Homo sapiens: one gene and its partner. The protein of the gene in region 2 purifies or fractionates together with the protein of the main gene of each other region. This does not show direct contact. Each region holds a gene or a part of one and is shown on either strand. Other genes may lie near its edges.

What was found.
Region 1: the proteins of C8orf76 (region 2) and PLCB3 purify together in Homo sapiens (affinity purification with mass spectrometry; one large-scale study listed by BioGRID and IntAct). This does not show direct contact.

What each region holds. Positions count from the first base shown.
Region 1 is NC_000011.10:64,257,796-64,261,610, reverse strand, and holds part of PLCB3 (1-phosphatidylinositol 4,5-bisphosphate phosphodiesterase beta-3), read right to left. Parts: intron 3,139-3,815; coding exon 2,898-3,138; intron 2,727-2,897; coding exon 2,642-2,726; intron 2,554-2,641; coding exon 2,367-2,553; intron 1,583-2,366; coding exon 1,377-1,582; intron 212-1,376; coding exon 115-211; intron 31-114; coding exon 1-30. UniProt on the Homo sapiens protein: Catalyzes the production of the second messenger molecules diacylglycerol (DAG) and inositol 1,4,5-trisphosphate (IP3).
Region 2 is NC_000008.11:123,231,134-123,234,948, forward strand, and holds part of C8orf76 (uncharacterized protein C8orf76), read right to left. Parts: intron 625-3,815; coding exon 167-624; intron 1-166. Other genes in the region: ZHX1-C8orf76 (zinc fingers and homeoboxes protein 1), read right to left, coding at 167-624.

The DNA of each region.
Region 1 (3,815 bases), on a different chromosome or scaffold from region 2:
AGGACGACATCTCGAAGCATTTGTTCCTCTCTTAGGGGTGAGCCAAGAAAGGGCGTCAGACCTGGCAGGGCTGAGCTGGGCAAGCTCCCATGCCTGCCACCCACCCCCACTCACTTCGAGCAGCCTCAAAGGACTTGAACTTGACAGGTTCGATGTAGTTGACAAGCGTGGACATCTCCTCAGTGGCATTCACCTCGCTGCTGGCTGTGCCCTGTGGGCCCCAACCCAGGGTCAGCAGTGCCATTCCCGCCACAGCTGGCCATTCCCTCACCTGCCCCCCATGAAGGAGGTGCTGACCCTCTTCCCAGCACTATATACACACTGCTGGTGGTGCCGACAGTCTTCTCCCCGGGGTCTCACTGATGCGCCCTGGACACCACCCAGCTCAAGCAATTTTCCTGCCTCAGCCTCCCAAGTAGCTGGGATTACAGGCGCCCGCCACCTTGCCCGGCTAATTTATGTATTTTTAGTAGAGATGGGGTTTCACCATGTTGGCCAGGCTGGTCTGGAACCTCCCAACCTCAGGTGACTCGCCCACCTCAGCCTCCCAAAGTGCTGGGATTACAGGCATGAGCCACCTCGCCTGGCCCATATAGGTGTTATAATTATCATTACTTTTACTGAATCATTTGGGAGTAAATTATAGACATCATGACCCTTTACCCATAAATACTTCAGCATATATGGACATTCTCTTCTATAACTCCAATACAATAATTAAATTCAGGAAACAAAACATTAACATATTATCTAATATGTAGTCCATCTTTAAATTTCACTAATTGCTCCAGTAATTGTCTTTATAGCAATGATGTCTTTTTTTTTTTTTTTTTTTTTTGAGATAGTGTCTCCCTTTTTAGCCCACGTTGGAGTGCAATGGTGCAATCTCAGCTCACTGCAACCTCCACCTCCCAGGTTCAAGGGATTCTCATGCCTCAGCCTCCCGAGTAGCTGGGATCACAGGTGTGAGCCACCACGCCCAGCTCAGACTGATTTTTTCTGTACCATTCCTCACAGCTACTCAATGCTCCCCATGACAATGCTCCCCGCTCCTGCACCCCCTGGCCCTGCCCCAGGACCTTTGTACATGCTGTCCCCCTTCCTGAGGTCTCCCTGCCCCACCTCCCTGCCCAGGGTAGACTCCCTATCCTCTGCCAGTTCTGTACCCTAACTCGCACCTCCCAGGCCACATCACCAGCAGAACTGTATGCTTGTTTCCATGCCTGATGACTGAAGAGCCCTCCTCCCACCTTCACTCACACCCACACTGAGCCCCAGGAGGCAGGGGTGATGTCAGTCTTGTTGATGGTCAGACCCAGCCCCCTGGGAGGTAAATAGATGCTACCTCCCCGACCTGCCCACCCTGTGGGCCTGACCTCATCTGTAGTTGGCTTTTTGGGGTCTGTCTGTTCCTCCTCTTCCTCATCTTCCTCCTCATCCTCACGGTCAGCAGGTCCAAGAACATAGGGGCCTCGGTTCAGGCCCTCGTCACCCAGAGACTTCTGAGGCTCCAGGCTGGGCTTCTCAAGCCCTACCTCCTCCCCATTGCTCAGGCCTGGGCAGCTGTCAGAGCTGGGAGACCCTGCAGAGGACAGGGCCACAGGGTGAGGGGTCAGGACCACACAGCTGCTTAGGAAGTCTGGAGGGGTTTTTCCCAGTGTGTGCCGAGGTGACTCAGTGGGGAATTCAAGGGGTACTCTCAGGGCAGTGTGGCTTGGGGAGAGGCCAAGAGGTCGAGGTCAGATGGTATTAACCCAGTATGGGTTGAGAGGGGTCATAGGTCAAAGGTAAAGGTCTGCAGTGATATTCAGCAGGGAGGCAGATAGGGTGGTTCAGTGGGGTGAGAAGTCAGGAAGTAGCATACCACAGCCCTAATAGCGGGGTAAGGGATGACATAGAGAGGTTACAGGTCAGGGGTAAGTCAGAGCCATGTCTAAGGAGGGGGCATAGTGAGGTGAACAGTCAGGGGTGAGAGGTCAGAGGTCAGCTGAAATGATAACCAACTGGGCAGGTGAACTCAATGCGGGCTTAGGGGTCTGAGGTCACACCCAGTGTGGGATGTGGTTTACTGAGGTCAGAGGTCAGCCTTCAGAGCCATCACCGGGTTGTGGGAAGGCTCTGAGAGGTGAGAGGCTGAGGTTGGGAGTCAGGAGTTGGGGTGCAGCTGGGTGAGACGTGCACCTGAGGTCAGGGGTCAGAGGCCCCACACCAGCCGACAGGTGGTGAGGAGACAGGCCGGTTGTGGGAACAGGCGCACAGCGAGGCAGGAGGGTGGGCTGGGGGTCTGGGATGAAGTGTCACGGCGCCTGGAGCATGAGGCCAGAGGCTAGGGTCAAGTCAGGGTGGCGGGCCGGGCTGGGGCCTACCCAGCTGCGGGGAGGAGGGCTCGGTGGCCGCGGAGCTCTCGCTCAGGGCAGAATTGCTCTGCTCCAGGGGCCGCTTGCGCCCGGCGCTGTCTGGGCCACCTGCGCTGGGTCGGTGCCGCTTCTTGTTCTTCACCAGGATACGGCCCATCAGGTCCTGGGGGCTGGGCAGGGGAACGCCTGGGGCCAGCTGGGCAGGCATGGACGAGTCAGGGCCCTGGACCGGGTCCGCAGCACCCTGGCCCCCATGCCACCCCCCTCGCTCCGAGCTCCCGTACCGGGTACTTGTCCAGAGGCTCGATGAGTAGCGCGTCTCCAAAGATGGAGCGGCAGTACTCAGCCATCTTTGCCTGTTGCTTTGCCCTGCGGAACCGAGGTCAGAGGTCAGAGATCCCTCCCCCAGAGAGGAAGCTGAGGTCTACGGGACATGTCAGTGGCCGTTCGCAGGGTTGGAGGTCCCTGAGCAGTCCAACAGCACTGAAGCTGGAAGACTGTCCCCCGGTCCATGGGGTTTCATGCCAGGGGCTCACTCACGAGTCCACATGGTTCTCGAAGGAGAGGATGACGGGGTAGGGCGAGGTCTTGAAGGCAGTCTCGGCAATGGCCTCCAGCACGTCGCGCAGAGGCACCTCTGTGGTCATGGTGAAGCCGTGGGTAATGAAGGGTTCCTCCTCAGGCGGCCGTCCCTTCCACACGTCCAGCTCCACGCAGCGGCAGCCCCATAGTAGTGCCTGGCGGTACATCTCCACCGACGAGGTCCCAGCCAGCTGCCCCGCTGGGGCGGCGAGGCTCTGTCACCGAGGCCGCCCACCAGCCCAGCTCCTCACCACCCCGGCCCCACCTGGAACCAGGACATGCTGGATTTGCAGAGGGCTCTCCATCTCTCAGATGGATACCCACCACCTGTCCATCCCACCAGCGTGAGCTGGGGGGAGTCATCCCTGAGACTCACTATAGCTCCCCACTGCCTCAACAATCCCTCCCTCTCCTCACTCCCTCCACCCACCTCAGCCCTGGCACAGCTCACACCACCTCCTGTGTGGAAGACTCCAGCCCTCCCTGCCTCCAATCCAATCTCTTTTTTTTTTTTTTTTGAGACGGAACCTCGCTCTGTCACCCAGGCTGGAGTGCAGTGGCACAACCTCGGTTCACTGCAACCTCCGCCTCCCTGGTTCAAGCGATTCTCCTGCCTCAGCCTCCCGAGTAGCTGGGATTACAGTTGCCCACCACCATGCCTGGCTAATTTTTGTATTTTTAGTAGAGATGGGGTTTCACCATGTTGGCCAGGCTGGTCTCGAACTCCTGACCTCAGGTGATCCACACGCCTCAGCCTTTCAAAGTTCTGGGATTACAGGTGTGAACCACTGTGCCTGGCCTCAATCCAATCTCTATAGAGCACCTGGCATCATCCTTCTAAAAACATATCATATCAGGTCACATCACCTCTTCTGC
Region 2 (3,815 bases):
TCCAAGTATTACACACTAGAATGACAAACGTTCAACACAACCATAGGAAAATTTCAAAAATATATACCAAATGTCTAGCCTAGAACTTTTTGAAGCTTAAAATTAGAAAATAAAGCCTTTACTCTGAGCTGATTACCAAGCGTTGCTTAAGTGACTCTCAGCTTACCTGGTTCGTATAAAAGAGGCACATGCTTTCAGCTGAGTCTCTATCAACACTGTTTCTCTCTTTTCTGCCATACAGTTTTGGATATTTGTCAGAGCTTTCTCATTTTTCTGGCTATTACTGCTATTCGCTTCCACAGAAAATAAAGAGCTCTCAGGCAAGGTTTCAGGAAAACACAAAAGACAGTCTTTTCCTGAGTGTGGAAAGAAGGATTTGATAGTTTTGTCACTTGAGGTGAAACTGTGCTGTTTCTGAGATGACGCAAGTGCTGCTGAAAGAGCTGGCCCCAGATTCAGGTAAGCCTCTGCCAATTTGCCCCAGTTCCAAGGATTAAAAGGATGCAAAGAAATCAGTTTCTGCAGGCAGAAAATTGTTTTCTCCAAGTTCTGCAAACTTGAACAAATAGCAAGCTGGAGGTAGAGTACCGTGGTTAAATGGTCTGTGTTGGTTGCTTTATTTTCCTAAGGAGAAAAAAAAAAGGTTAAGAAGTTTAAACTTCAAAGCATTTTCCATATAAAATGAGAATGCCTAAAAAACCAAGTTGTATATGTTATAAATTAGAAGTATCTTTCAGTAGCTATACGAGTGACCTAAATATATTTCAATATATCTCATGTTTGAAACCGTAAACCCAGAGAGATATATGCTACCTAGAGAAAGAGTCACCAGCCATTCCCAAACATCCTAATGTCATAATAACTTAACAATTCCTAGATGGTGGCCTGCCAAATGTTCAGCATCAAAAACATAAATATCCATTTATTTCCAATTTTTATTATAATCTTTACTGTCTTCAGCCAGGTATCTGAAAGACCCAGCCACTTTTCTTAGATCCTGGCCTAATGATTCCATTGTAATATTCAAGGCTTTCTAAAAATCCAAATGGTAATTTCCTTGAGGATTTGAACAAACTCCACTTCCAAATTTTATTTGGCTTAGACATTTTAAACAGGATAGCCCTGAAGCTCTCCATGCTTCATGACGCATTCTAATTGAATCCAAATGCCTTCCCTGGTAACCATTACCAAGGTCAATTATAATTTTTGGCCAAAAGGGGTTGCTTAGTTTCCTTTTGATCAGAAAATCCTTTTCAAATCTCCTTAACCAGCGCCAACATCTCTTGCCTAACTTGCCATATGGCAAATGTCCTCTGGGTTAGTAAAAACAGGCCTGCTTTTTGTAAGTTGAAGTTTGCGGAGAGCAGATGGCAGACTCAAATTACCTTCAAGTTGATGTGAGGTCTAAGGAAAGCCTGGCCTGCAAGCGTCCAGATCAGGCTCCCTCACAGAACCACACTGAGCATGAAACATGAGCAAAACTACCTGGTGTACGGCCCCAGGAAACTGTACACCAGCAAGTGAAGGCCTGCGGGCAGCTCTAAATATTCCCACATTGAGTGAAAAGATAGGAGATAAAGCCCCATACGACTGATTTGCTGACACTGTACCTTCCCAAAGACAGAACACATCTCGTTTTATTGTTACTATTGTTCAGCATCTGTCCTTCCCAACAGACCATTTAGCTCCATAAGAGCTTTTGTTCAATGTAAATTCCTAGTACAGAGCACAGCTCCTCGGCCATCACAGATGTTAAATCACGTTTGAGTAATGACTTTTCTAAAGTCAAATCATGTCATTTATAAGGAAAACAACATGTATAGACTACATCTGTAACAAATGCTACCCTTCTTCTGTAACCAGTCTATAGGGCTTTATATTGTTCAAAAACTTTTTTTTTTTTTGAGACAGAGTTTCGCTCTCGTCGCCCAGGCTGGAGTGCAATGGTGCGATCTCAGCTCACCGCAACCTCTGCCTCCCTGGTTCAAGCAATCCTCCTGCCTCAGCCTCCGGAGTAGCTGGGATGACGGGTGCCTGCCACCACACCCAGCTAATTTTTGCATAAAGTAAAGACAGGGTTTTGCCATGTTGGCCAGGCTGGTCTCGAACTCCTGACCTCAAGTGATCCACCCCCTTCGGCCTCTGAAAGTGCTGGGCTTACAGGCATGAACCACTGTGCCCAGCCTCAAAAACATTTTGATATTGATAAAGCAAGTGTGTGTTAGGGTGGAGGCTGTTACTCACAAACTATGATCCTGATGACAGGGTTTTGTTTGTTTGAGATGGAGTCTCATTCTTTTGCCCAGGCTGGAGTGCAGTGGCGTGATCTCGACTCACTGCAATCTCCACCTCCCAGGTTCAAGCAGTCCTCCCACCTCAACCTCCCAAGTAGCTGGGACTACAGGTGCCCACCACCACACCAAGAGAGTTTTTAAAATTGTTATTAGGGATGCGGTTTCACCATGTTGGCCAGGCTGGTCTTGAACTCCTGACCTTCGCCCACCTCGGCCTCCCAAAGTGCTGGGAATACAGGCATGAGCCACTGCGCCCTGTCAATAGTAGGGTTTTGAGAGGTGGATTAGTAAACTCCTTCTGGAAATTAAATTCTATTTAGGCCGGGCGTGGTGGCTCACATCTGTAATCCCAGCACTTTGGGAGGCCAAGGCGGGCGGATCATGAGTTCAGGAGATCGAGACCATCCTGGCTAACATGGCGAAACCCCATCTCTACTAAAAATACAAAAAATTAGCTAGGTGTGGTGGCGGGCACCTGTAGTCCTAGCTACTCAGGAGGTTGAGGCAGGAGAATGGCATGAACCCGGGAGGCAGAGCTTGCAGTGAGCCAAGATCATGCCACTGCACTCCAGCCTGGGCAACAGAACGAGACTTCATCTCAAAAAAAAAAAAAAAATCTATTTAAATGAGTGAGTGATTTTTCCAGAATACTGCAACTCTTTCTGTAACAATAACATGATGATGACAGTTAACATTTACTGAGTGTTTACGCAGTGCCAGGCACTATTCTAAGTGTTTTCCTCATTTAATCCTCCTGACAGTGCTTTAAAATAGATTCAGTAATTTTCCTTATGTTACAGATAAGGCAACTGGGTCACAGAGAGGTTAGATAACTTGCCTGCCATAACGTGGCTGGTAAGCAGGAGAGCTACAGTCAGTTATACTAAAAGTCAAGGAATAAAAGGTACTTACGAAGAGCTGATATGGCCAGGCAAGGTGGCTCACCCCTGTAATCTCAGCACTTTGGGAAGCCGAGGTGGGCAGATCACTTGAGGTCAGGAGTTCAAGATCAGCCTGGCCAACATGGTGAAACCCTGTCTCTATTAAAAATACAAAAAAGGCTGGGCGCATTGGCTCATCCCTATAATCCTAGTACTTCGGGAGGCTGAGGCGGGTGGACTGCCTGAGCTCAGGAGTTCGAGACCAGACTGGACAACATGATGAAACCCCGTCTCTACTAAAATACAAAAAATTAGCCAGATGTGGTGGCGGGCACCTCTAATCCCAGCTACTTGGGTGGCTGAGACAGGTGAATCGCTTGAACCCAGGAGGCGGAGGTTGCAGTGAGCCAAGATCGCGCCACTGCACTCCAGCCTGGGCGACAGTGCGAGACTCCATCTAAAAAACAAAAAAACAAAAACAAAAACAAAAAAACAAAAAAAAATGTAGCCAGGTGTGGTGACACATGCCTATAATCCCAGCTACTTGGGTGGCTGAGACAGGTGAATTGCTTGAACCTGGGAGGAGGAGGCTGCAGTGAGCCAAGATCGCACCACTGCACTCCAGCCTGGGCAACAGAGC